Linked DNA regions of Homo sapiens. The protein of the gene in region 3 purifies or fractionates together with the protein of the main gene of each other region. This does not show direct contact. Each region holds a gene or a part of one and is shown on either strand. Other genes may lie near its edges. The genes, in order: TCEANC2, LRRTM4 and GPC6.

Region 1 (3,500 bases), on a different chromosome or scaffold from region 3:
TCCCAGTACTTTGGGAGGCCAAAGCGGGTGGACCACCTGAGGTCAGGAGTTCGAGACCAGCCTGGCCAACATGGCAAAACCCCGTCTCTACTAAAAATACAAAAATTAGCCAGGCATGGTGGCCACTGCACTCCGGCCTGGGTGACAGAGCAAAACTCCGTCTAAAAAAAAAAAAGTGTTTAAATGCTCTGGATCTAGGTCTGATATCCTGTACGATCTTATTTATCATTTTATTTTTAGCATCTACTACAGTGACCAAGAGCATAAAATCTTGCTTGCTGAATGAATAATCTCAGGGATAAGGAGAACTCCACCTAGAAAAGGAAAGTATCCAGGGGTGCTTTGTGCTTTGTGCATTGGAATGCACTTTCCTAAGCATCGCTAGCTAGGAAGCACCTTTAGACATTTCTAATGAGTGCTCTGCATTCCTCCTCCTCTTCCTCCTTGTGATGAGTGTTGATGTACTCCTTTCCCAGGTCCATAGAAAGGCTAGGTACAAATTCTTGATAAATAATTGGTTAGAGGGAGAAGTTAAAGACTCAATATTATTTTACCCTGTCTTCCCTTCAAAGTTTTATTTTTCAACTCCAGGATTCTCTTCATAGAACCTGTAAAGCAGGGACAATTGCTTGTTTAAGCCCTACATGACTAGTGCCCAGCATAGTATCTAGAGCAAACAGGCCTTCAATAAATGTGTGGAGAATAAAGGAATCAAACAATATTGGGCCATGCAGTTGGCATAATTGGAGAAATTTTCTAAATGTTTTGACCATTTTCTCAAATAAAAATTTTTTTTCTGTTTCCCTTTGTTCAATGATGCCTCTTTCATTATGTATTAAATTCTTATGTACTATGGTCTGTTTGCGACCTTCATTTTTTAAAATTCCCTATCCATTTTCTTTTTTGGTGTTGGTCCATATCATTTTCAATGTTGTTACTTTATAATATGTTCTAATATCTTAGATCTTAGATATGAGGCTAGTTGTGCCTCATAACTCCTCTTTTTCAAAATAGCATTTTATACTCTTGCTCAGTTATATTTGTGTAGAAGTATTTGGTTGTAATCTAATAAAAATAGCCTACTGAGATTTTTGGTTGAGATTACATAAAATCTATAAACTAATTTCTTTTTTGTTTCTTTTCTTAGGCAGGGTCTTGCTCTGTTGCCCAGGCTGGAGTGCAGTGGCATGATCACAGCTCACTATAGCCTTGAACTTTTAGGTTCAAGCCATCCTCCCATCTCAGCCTCCCAAGTAGCTGAGAGTACAGGCATATGTCACCTCACCTGGCTAATTTTTTAATTTTTTGTAGAGATAGAGACTCATTATGTTGCCCAGGCTGGTCTTGAACTCCTGGGCTCAAGTGATCCTCCCATCTTGGCATCGCAAAGTGTTGAGATTATAGGCATGAGCCACTGCACCCAGGCGACTACTTTCTATATTGGCATTTTTGTGCTCATTTTTCCATCTCATAATAAGGTATATTTTCCCTTTATTCCAATCTTCTGTTATGTATTTTAGTAGGAATGTATGTTATTCTTTATATGAGTCTCTCATTCAACCAACCTGCTCTCCTGATTCCCATCTCCTGCCACGATGCTCACTGCTGGAGATACAAAGATGAGCATCCCCTAAGGTTAGGGGATTTCTTGCATAGCTCTTTCTGCAAGAAGCTCAAGTTGGTGAACAAAAGAGATAACTGATCAAATAATTACAACTAACTCTAGTAATTACCATGATAAACAGAAGCGCAAGGTGCTAAGGAAGCAGAGAGCAGGGGTACTGACCAAGACTAGAGATATTAAGGAAGAATTCCTGGAGGAAGGGACCCTTAAATGAGTCTTAAAGGCCGAATGGAAGTTGGCCAGATAACAAGAGAAGTAAGAGTATTTCAGGCAGACAGAATGTTCATTGGGGTGTATGCTCAAAAGTAAAGAGATAAAAAATAAAATGTTTTAAGAGCTGCAAGTAGCTGGAGTATTGGATGACAGTGGATAGTAGCTGGAAATGAAGATAGAAAGTAGGTAGGAGGGTGGCAGATTGTGAAGGGACTTTTATGAAAAGGTAAGAGTGGATATAGCACCAAAGGATTTAAGTGGAGGAGTGAAATGGTCAAATTTATGCTTTAGGAAAAAAGTCCCTAAAAAACAAAACACTAAAAATAAATAAAGGCTATCCTAGCTGCAGTGTGGAAGATGGCATTAAGGGGTACCAAACTTAGCTGGAGAGGTCAATCAGGGTGCCTCCATAGTCAACTGGAGGCAACATGCCCTAAGGCAGGGCAGCGGGGCTAGGGATGGAGGAAAAGGAGGAATCCTGGAGCATTAAGGAAGTGGGCACAAACAGACAGCACAAGTGCTCACACACCCATTCTTGTCCATGCTTTCCAAAGTGCTTTATAGTTTTTACTAGTTTAAACAGGATTTGTTCCCCTGTGGTGTTCTGACTGGCTATTGCTGACTTAAGAAAGCTATTGGTTTTTAAAAATATATCTGTCTTATATTCAACCCATGGAGCAGGATTAAAAAGTTCATTAAAATAAAAAATTAAAAAATATATATGTATCTTATATTCTTCCATTTTTTAAACTTTTAGTTTTAAGTGTTCAGTTGACTTCTTTAGCCTTTCTAGGTATTTATTTTTATCTAAGTACTTTGCATATTGATATTTTTGACCCTTCACCTTTTTTCCATTTTTATTATGAAATTCTCAAACATACACAAAAATAAAGAGAATATTATAACTAACTCTCATATGCCCTTCATCTAGATTCAATAACTATTAAGATTTTGTCCCACTTCATCTTTCCCTTTTTGCTTTTGTGTTGTTGCTGAGGTATTTTAAAGTAGAATCTCAGACCTTTTGTCATTTCAACTCTACATACTTCAGTATGCATCTCTAAAAAATGTGGATATTTTCTCTTGTAATCACAGTGCCATTCTTATTGTGCTTAACAAAGTTTACAATTATTCCATGGTATAATTTAGTATCTAGTGCATATTCATATTCCTTGTTTATCTCAAAATATCTTTTAACAGTTGGTTTGTTCCAACTGGGATTTGAATCACACGTCGCATTTGGTAGTTTGTACTCAAGAGATTCTTTTAATCTACAGCAGTCCCTAACCCTAGCCCCTTTTCAAAAATAAAAACAAACAAAAAACAACAACAAAGAGAAAAATCACTGACTGTGGAAGAAACCATATCTGTTGTCCTGTAGAATGTCCCACATTCAGAATTTGTCTTGTTTCTTCATACTACAATTTAATTTATTCCTCTGTCTCTCCTATTTCCTATGAATTGGAAGTTAGCTTTGAATGACTAACTGGGTTATTGTTCTTTTTCTTTTGGGGAAGAGGATAAGACTACTTCATAGGTTAAGGGTGCGAAGTACTTCTTCTGTTTCTTCTGTCTGACAGTCCCACTCTTAGGGATGCTAACATTGAACAGTGGGTTTAGATGATGACAGCTCATCCCTCCATTATAAATTTCCCCATCAGAC
Region 2 (3,736 bases), on a different chromosome or scaffold from region 3:
CCTACAATAAGCTTCAGACATTGCAATCTGAACAATTTAAAGGCCTTCGGAAACTCATCATTTTGCACTTGAGATCTAACTCACTAAAGACTGTGCCCATAAGAGTTTTTCAAGACTGTCGGAATCTTGATTTTTTGGATTTGGGTTACAATCGTCTTCGAAGCTTGTCCCGAAATGCATTTGCTGGCCTCTTGAAGTTAAAGGAGCTCCACCTGGAGCACAACCAGTTTTCCAAGATCAACTTTGCTCATTTTCCACGTCTCTTCAACCTCCGCTCAATTTACTTACAATGGAACAGGATTCGCTCCATTAGCCAAGGTTTGACATGGACTTGGAGTTCCTTACACAACTTGGATTTATCAGGGAATGACATCCAAGGAATTGAGCCGGGCACATTTAAATGCCTCCCCAATTTACAAAAATTGAATTTGGATTCCAACAAGCTCACCAATATCTCACAGGAAACTGTCAATGCGTGGATATCATTAATATCCATCACATTGTCTGGAAATATGTGGGAATGCAGTCGGAGCATTTGTCCTTTATTTTATTGGCTTAAGAATTTCAAAGGAAATAAGGAAAGCACCATGATATGTGCGGGACCTAAGCACATCCAGGGTGAAAAGGTTAGTGATGCAGTGGAAACATATAATATCTGTTCTGAAGTCCAGGTGGTCAACACAGAAAGATCACACCTGGTGCCCCAAACTCCCCAGAAACCTCTGATTATCCCTAGACCTACCATCTTCAAACCTGACGTCACCCAATCCACCTTTGAAACACCAAGCCCTTCCCCAGGGTTTCAGATTCCTGGCGCAGAGCAAGAGTATGAGCATGTTTCATTTCACAAAATTATTGCCGGGAGTGTGGCTCTCTTTCTCTCAGTGGCCATGATCCTCTTGGTGATCTATGTGTCTTGGAAACGCTACCCAGCCAGCATGAAACAACTCCAGCAACACTCTCTTATGAAGAGGCGGCGGAAAAAGGCCAGAGAGTCTGAAAGACAAATGAATTCCCCTTTACAGGAGTATTATGTGGACTACAAGCCTACAAACTCTGAGACCATGGATATATCGGTTAATGGATCTGGGCCCTGCACATATACCATCTCTGGCTCCAGGGAATGTGAGGTATGAACCATGATCCTCCTAAAAGCATTTCTACTGCGGGGAAGGAGAGGTAAATGTTTGAAGCCCTAGAGGTGTCTCTAATCACTAGAAAGATTAATGACCCTTTTGCTTTTGGGTTTTGCTCAGTGTGAAAGGTTACTTAATTAAATTACAACCACCAGGAAATTGACTGCTTTTTTTTTTTTTTTAAATGGTTGAAACTTGAAGGAAGTTCATTCAAGGATAAGTTGGAATAAAGCACTATGTTAAAACATCTGCTTTTTAACAATTTGTATACAGGGGTTGGACTTAAAAACACACATACAAACAAAACTCTTTTCATTCTGAAATTTCTGTCTGGTTCTTGGTGTTTGACTGTTGTAATGGAGTAAAGAAGAGGGCCAGCTTAATTTAAAAATAAAGTGAGTTTACCAAAATTCCAGAAGGTAATGAAGATTTAAACCAAAGAGCAATTTTCCCAAGGGTTGATTTTGTTGTAAATTTTTAGTTTTAATGAAAGCATGCAACAGGGATCTCACACCCATGTTACTTGCCATTTAGTTATTATACCAGCATAGAGAATGTCAGAGGCCTACTGTGTAATTGTATCAGGCTCCTAAGGCTTCTTTCTTTTTTTTTTTTTGTTTCCTTCTTTCCTACTTTCTTTCACTCCTTCCTTTCCTTCCTTTCTCTTCCTTCTTTTTTTGTTTGTTTGTTTGTTTTTTAATTACTGGGATATAGATCCGATTTCAAAGGTTTTTATGCACTGGCTATTTGTGTTTAATCAGAATGAAACTTCAATTCCATGCTTTGGCTTTGTCCCTGGTAACTAAAATCAGGTCACAATTTTGTGGATGATTTAGCAATAATAAAATGGCAGTCATAACAGGGACTGTTTGTCAGTATTGCTGTCATCCCCAAAAGAAATGATATGTATTCTTGTTAAACTTATTAAAAAATAAGTGATACAAATATTTATAAATAAAAGGAGAGAGGTTTGAGTTCTGGGTATCCTCCCTTTCTGTAACAGCCTCAAATAAAGGTGTACCTTCCATGTTATATTATTTTTGTTTTTATAAGAATAAATTTGGACCCGGTTTCTGATTATTTAATTTAAAAGATCACTTACAGGATCATGTTAGTGAGCAGACAAATAGTCACAAATTTCAAACTTGTCAATAAGTAATGCTGGATGTAAATTGTTCTTTTCTTGGTAATGTTGATCATTATGTGCAAAGACTGACTACTAAGGCCTTGTTGCTGGAAGAAACTAGTGAAGAGAGGTTAAATTCTGGCAATATAATGTTTTAGTATCTGATTTTAGATGATCACTCTTTCAAAAGACAGTTTTAATGAGTAATTAAAGATGTTGCCCTTTCTAATGCTAGTTAACAGTTGGAAAATATAATTGCTCTTTGATAGCATATACTCCAATTTTTCCATAGTCCTAACTACAAATGCTAATGAAAATGTTTTCAGACAAAGCACTGAATTTGAAATAATCTCTAACTCAGTACAATTTGGACTATTGAACTGTTCTTCAAAGAATTCATTTTCTTCTTTTTTGTGTATCATTGAAAATAAGAGAAGTAATCCCAGATAATAAATTCCTAAAAGGAAACTGTATAAGCAATTGCCCTTAAAAATTAAAAAGAATAAAAGATTTTCTATAAAAGTCTAACAAGGCTTGATGTTTTTATTGCAGGCCCACAATTATACAATATACTTGAGTATTAGTAACACAAGTTCATCCTATTTTATTCTGGGTTCTCCTTATATTTTGTGATCCTCTTAAAGGCTGGTATATAAAAAGAAAAGAAAATTCTAGACGCATTAATTCATTTTCTCTTGACTTTTGGAGTAGAATGCTAACTTTTATGTTTAAGAATCACCAAGAAGAAAGAAACATTCTTAAAGAACCAGGATTTGAGAACTGGGGTTCTAAGACTTTTCCAGAGATCTTAAATTTCACAGATTATTCCATCAAAAACCCTAGGCATTACCATGACAGAAACAAGTTTAAAAGATGGTTCATTTAATTAAAACGTGTGTTTAAATAAACACATTTTGATATTGTATGTGTTATATAGATTGACATTTAATGTCATGAAATTGCACTAGTATTGTTGAAAATGAATGTGTTGTTAAGGCATTAAGTAATGAAGAATGTAATTAAATATTGTAATAATTCTGTTGAGTCAAAATGGAATCCTTACTAAAGTAGCTCAAACTTTCTGTGCCCTCAAACATGGACATTAGTAGGCTATACATTTAAGATCATATGTCCATTTAGGATGAGGAGGGGGGTGCTATAAAACTATATTTAAATGAATTTCAACTTGTTTTAAAACGAAAGCATACAAAAACAAACATTGCAGGGGTCACCCCATTTTTTGACAGAATGTTTGCTGTATTACAGTTATAGGTAGATATAAATGGTGAGGAAAAGCAAACTCTTAGAAATTGTTATAGGGAAAACCCTAATTACTTCTTACTTCTTTGTCACTCGGAGTAAAATTTCTCCTGTTGAGAAATATTCCTTTGGACAAAATCTCTCTACAAAATAGAGCCAAGAGAGGGCAGCGATTTGCCCAACTTTACAATGTTTTTGGAATAGTATAAGTATG
Region 3 (3,736 bases):
TAGAATCCACTTTCCAGTCTCATTGTATTAGTATTTTTCAATTCAGTGATTTTCCCATTCTTTTTTATCTTCTTTCACAATCTGTTACGCCTTCCACCCTGTTCCTGTATCAGCAAGGCCAAGCTACTTTCATTCTTGGTTTCCAGATCGGAAGGTTTAACTTATGATATTCTCATACTTTTATATTAATAATTTAATATAGTTTCCATTTTAGGACAAACTAGATAACTAGCATTTTTGAAAAAAGTATGAAATTCTCTTGATTTCCTAAAATGATAAGCAATATCAGCATACAGCATATATAAATATTTTGATAAATTTATGCTTCTCAATTTTGCAAATTTCGCCCTATCTGCTTCAATAGTCATTTTCTTTACCGAATCCCTAAAGATTCAGAGAGATTTAATAATATTCAACTTTATTTTACATTTAGTAAAAATAAAAACCATTTGGTGACCTGGACAAAATTACACAGTATTTGTAATCCCACAGTTTTTGCTGCCACTGTAGCAACAGAATGTCTATTTAAAAATATATATATATTTCATAGAAAGGAGGTAAACAAATGAAAAGTACTTTCATTGCTGCTTTGGTCTGATTTGAAAACAAATATAAAACATTTATCATTATTATAGACACCATTTAATTATCAAGACAATGGTTTGATTGTATATTAATCAGAACTGAAGTGGCTAAACCAAGCACTTCTTCAGCCAACTTCTAAGAATGCACAAGTAGCTTCCATGGAATTAATGGAGAGGTGTTCGTCACTATTTCCTTTCTGTATCTTAGCAGAGAATACCCAGAACCCCAGAAAGGAGAAGAGTCCTTTTAAAAAATTCCTGGAGCTTTTGAAATATGCAGGACTTGATTTGTCCCTGCATTTCTGAGAAGGGGCATAGTTTCAGGCAATAAACGGGGACTATGAAGAGGTAAAGCAGAATCATTTTACTCTTGGGAACTTAGATTGATAACCTCAGAAGCATTATCTTTCCTTAGCTCTTTCCCTACCCCAATTTATAATCTCTAAATGAGATAAAACTTGAACTTGCTCTACCCAAGCTTATTTGTGCAAAAGGATAGGTGCCCTACACACACAAAGTGTGTCTTGAGGGAGACTAGCATGAGGGCCAGTGAGGCTAATGATACCCAATGGCTTTAATTTTTGTCTTATTTTTTTGCATCCTATAAGGGATCCCAGTAACACTCAAGCGCTGTTGCAAAGTGGAAGATTTGAATTATTGGTGTGCACTTTTTCATTTAGAACCTCATAACCAGAAAGTCCAATTGTCAATATTTTATTCAAGTTCTATAACATGATGGTTTATATTTGTAATGATAATCCAAGATACTTTAAGGCTTTCTGACTCATTATGGCCACCTAAATTATGCTCATTATAGCTTTATTATGAAGTGAATTTAATTGCATTATGAATATCTGAACATTGCTAATTGATTGCTATATATAGAAACTAGAAAGAGTCTAAAATATGACATTAATTTGAACATCTCATTTATGGACTATTTCAAATAAAAGCAATTTAATGGAATTTAGTGTTAGGACAAATTTATAAATAAACTGAAGCAAATGTGTTTATCATTATGTAAACAACAATACTCTGCACGTTATATTTGCAATATATTTTGATTTGAGTTTGTATCAAACCATAGGATTATTTAAAATTTAACAAGAAATGATTAAAGAATTGAGCTATTTTGGAGGAGGATTACATGGTAGACTCCTAATGTTAATGGAAATCATGGGGTATTCTGTTTTGAGTTGTACAAGGTCATAGATGTAGGTCAAATCCCATTTAAAATATGTTTTTTATCTGTCCATTAACACCTTAATCACAGGATATGTTTTTCCATGAAAATGTCAATTAAAAGCAGTTGTACTTAAGGTAAGTGGGTGCCTTGGGCTTTCTAGATTTCATTAATTTATGACTTCTTTCTGTTTTATCTGCAGAATTTTTCCGAGAGCTCCTGGAGAATGCAGAAAAGTCACTAAATGATATGTTTGTACGGACCTATGGCATGCTGTACATGCAGAATTCAGAAGTCTTCCAGGACCTCTTCACAGAGCTGAAAAGGTACTACACTGGGGGTAATGTGAATCTGGAGGAAATGCTCAATGACTTTTGGGCTCGGCTCCTGGAACGGATGTTTCAGCTGATAAACCCTCAGTATCACTTCAGTGAAGACTACCTGGAATGTGTGAGCAAATACACTGACCAGCTCAAGCCATTTGGAGACGTGCCCCGGAAACTGAAGATTCAGGTTACCCGCGCCTTCATTGCTGCCAGGACCTTTGTCCAGGGGCTGACTGTGGGCAGAGAAGTTGCAAACCGAGTTTCCAAGGTAATTGAAAACGTGCTTTCTTTCTCATTGGTGTTCCTTGTTTATTCTGTTTTTAAAACCAATGTTTAAAAAAAAAAAAAAAAAAAAAAAAAACCAAGGTAAAAATTCTTAATTGGTGGTCCTTGCTCTTAATCAGTTAAATATCAAAGCATAATTCTGGCTTTCTTTTCCTTGCATTGTGTGAGAGAGAACAGGATTTTAAGCCATTCTATGTGGTTTGAAAATTAATGTTAATACTTATCAGCAGTATAGCAGAGAAGCTTTTAGTACCAATGGTGCAAAAGCAGGCACGTTGCAACTATGATCATTTGATATTTCTGATCAGGGTTTTAAGGATGATAAATACTCATGAAAGAATCCATTCAGAGGTTATAATCCTCTAGGGAGTCAAGATGACAGTCTTCATGGACCTGCGAATGGAGACAAGTTATTGTTCAGGACATCAGCACCTGGCATTTCTTCTTTTTCAACACATGTCAATGTGGCCAAATTCCTTCATGGTAAAAGAAGAGCCCTTTGCTGACACCTGTATTACTGGATTAGGAAGGACTAATGAGTACCAAGTATAGATTCTCCTAGAGAATTTCTTTTGTTACCCCTTATCTTTGTAATTTCATACCATGCATTGCCTTGGGCTTATGAATAAGATCAATCATTAATCTACTTTTGGGCCTTTCTTGAAGATAACATCTCTATACCTTGGATATAAGGGATAATTCTACATTCCACTACTTAAACATTGAATATTTCCTGTGTAGAGGATATCTGCTTTTGTTTAAGTTCTTTCTTGACATTTAAGGCACTTGTGAGGTCAGTCCTCCAAATAAAATGAAAGACAATTACTTAAAGAAGTAAAGTTAAAAATAATACGTAACAGGAATCTGGTATTATGTCACTCCAAGAAGGTGTATTTGTATAAGGATTATTCCCAAACACTACTTTTCTATTGGAGGGCTGTGCCAAAGAGCCACAGTATTTTTCATAACTATTGGTACTGTCCTACAATGCTTCTTTTTTTTTTTTTGACACTTTGGTCTCCTCAATATTTACATCCTAGCATAAAGATGGTGTGTACCCTTACAAATGTTTCTCTATTGCACTGTCAGTAAAATCCGTAATAGCCCATTTTAAATTGTTAATTTCCTAAACGTTTATTTGAGCATACAGAAAGATTATTTCTAGGAAGGCGCTGAAGGAAATAATTACAAGGGCTTATTTATCAATATAAAGGGCATATGATTCTAATGTTTAAAATAATATCTTTGCCGGGCGCGGTGGCTCACATCTGTAATCCCAGCACTTTGGGAGGTTGAGGCGGGCAGATCTCGAGGGCAGGAGATCGAGACCATCCTGGCTAACATGGTGAAACCCCATC

The links.
Region 1: the proteins of GPC6 (region 3) and TCEANC2 purify together in Homo sapiens (co-immunoprecipitation; one large-scale study listed by IntAct). This does not show direct contact.
Region 2: the proteins of GPC6 (region 3) and LRRTM4 purify together in Homo sapiens (co-immunoprecipitation; one large-scale study listed by IntAct). This does not show direct contact.

The regions. Positions count from the first base shown.
Region 1 is NC_000001.11:54,084,608-54,088,107, forward strand, and holds part of TCEANC2 (transcription elongation factor A N-terminal and central domain-containing protein 2), read left to right. Parts: intron 1-3,500.
Region 2 is NC_000002.12:77,515,712-77,519,447, reverse strand, and holds part of LRRTM4 (leucine-rich repeat transmembrane neuronal protein 4 isoform a precursor), read left to right. Parts: coding exon 1-1,130; coding exon of another isoform or gene 1,131-1,136; exon of another isoform or gene 1,137-2,790; intron 2,791-3,736. UniProt on the Homo sapiens protein: May play a role in the development and maintenance of the vertebrate nervous system. Exhibits strong synaptogenic activity, restricted to excitatory presynaptic differentiation.
Region 3 is NC_000013.11:93,828,185-93,831,920, forward strand, and holds part of GPC6 (glypican-6 precursor), read left to right. Parts: intron 1-1,969; coding exon 1,970-2,361; intron 2,362-2,631; exon of another isoform or gene 2,632-2,771; intron 2,772-3,736. UniProt on the Homo sapiens protein: Cell surface proteoglycan that bears heparan sulfate. Putative cell surface coreceptor for growth factors, extracellular matrix proteins, proteases and anti-proteases. Enhances migration and invasion of cancer cells through WNT5A signaling.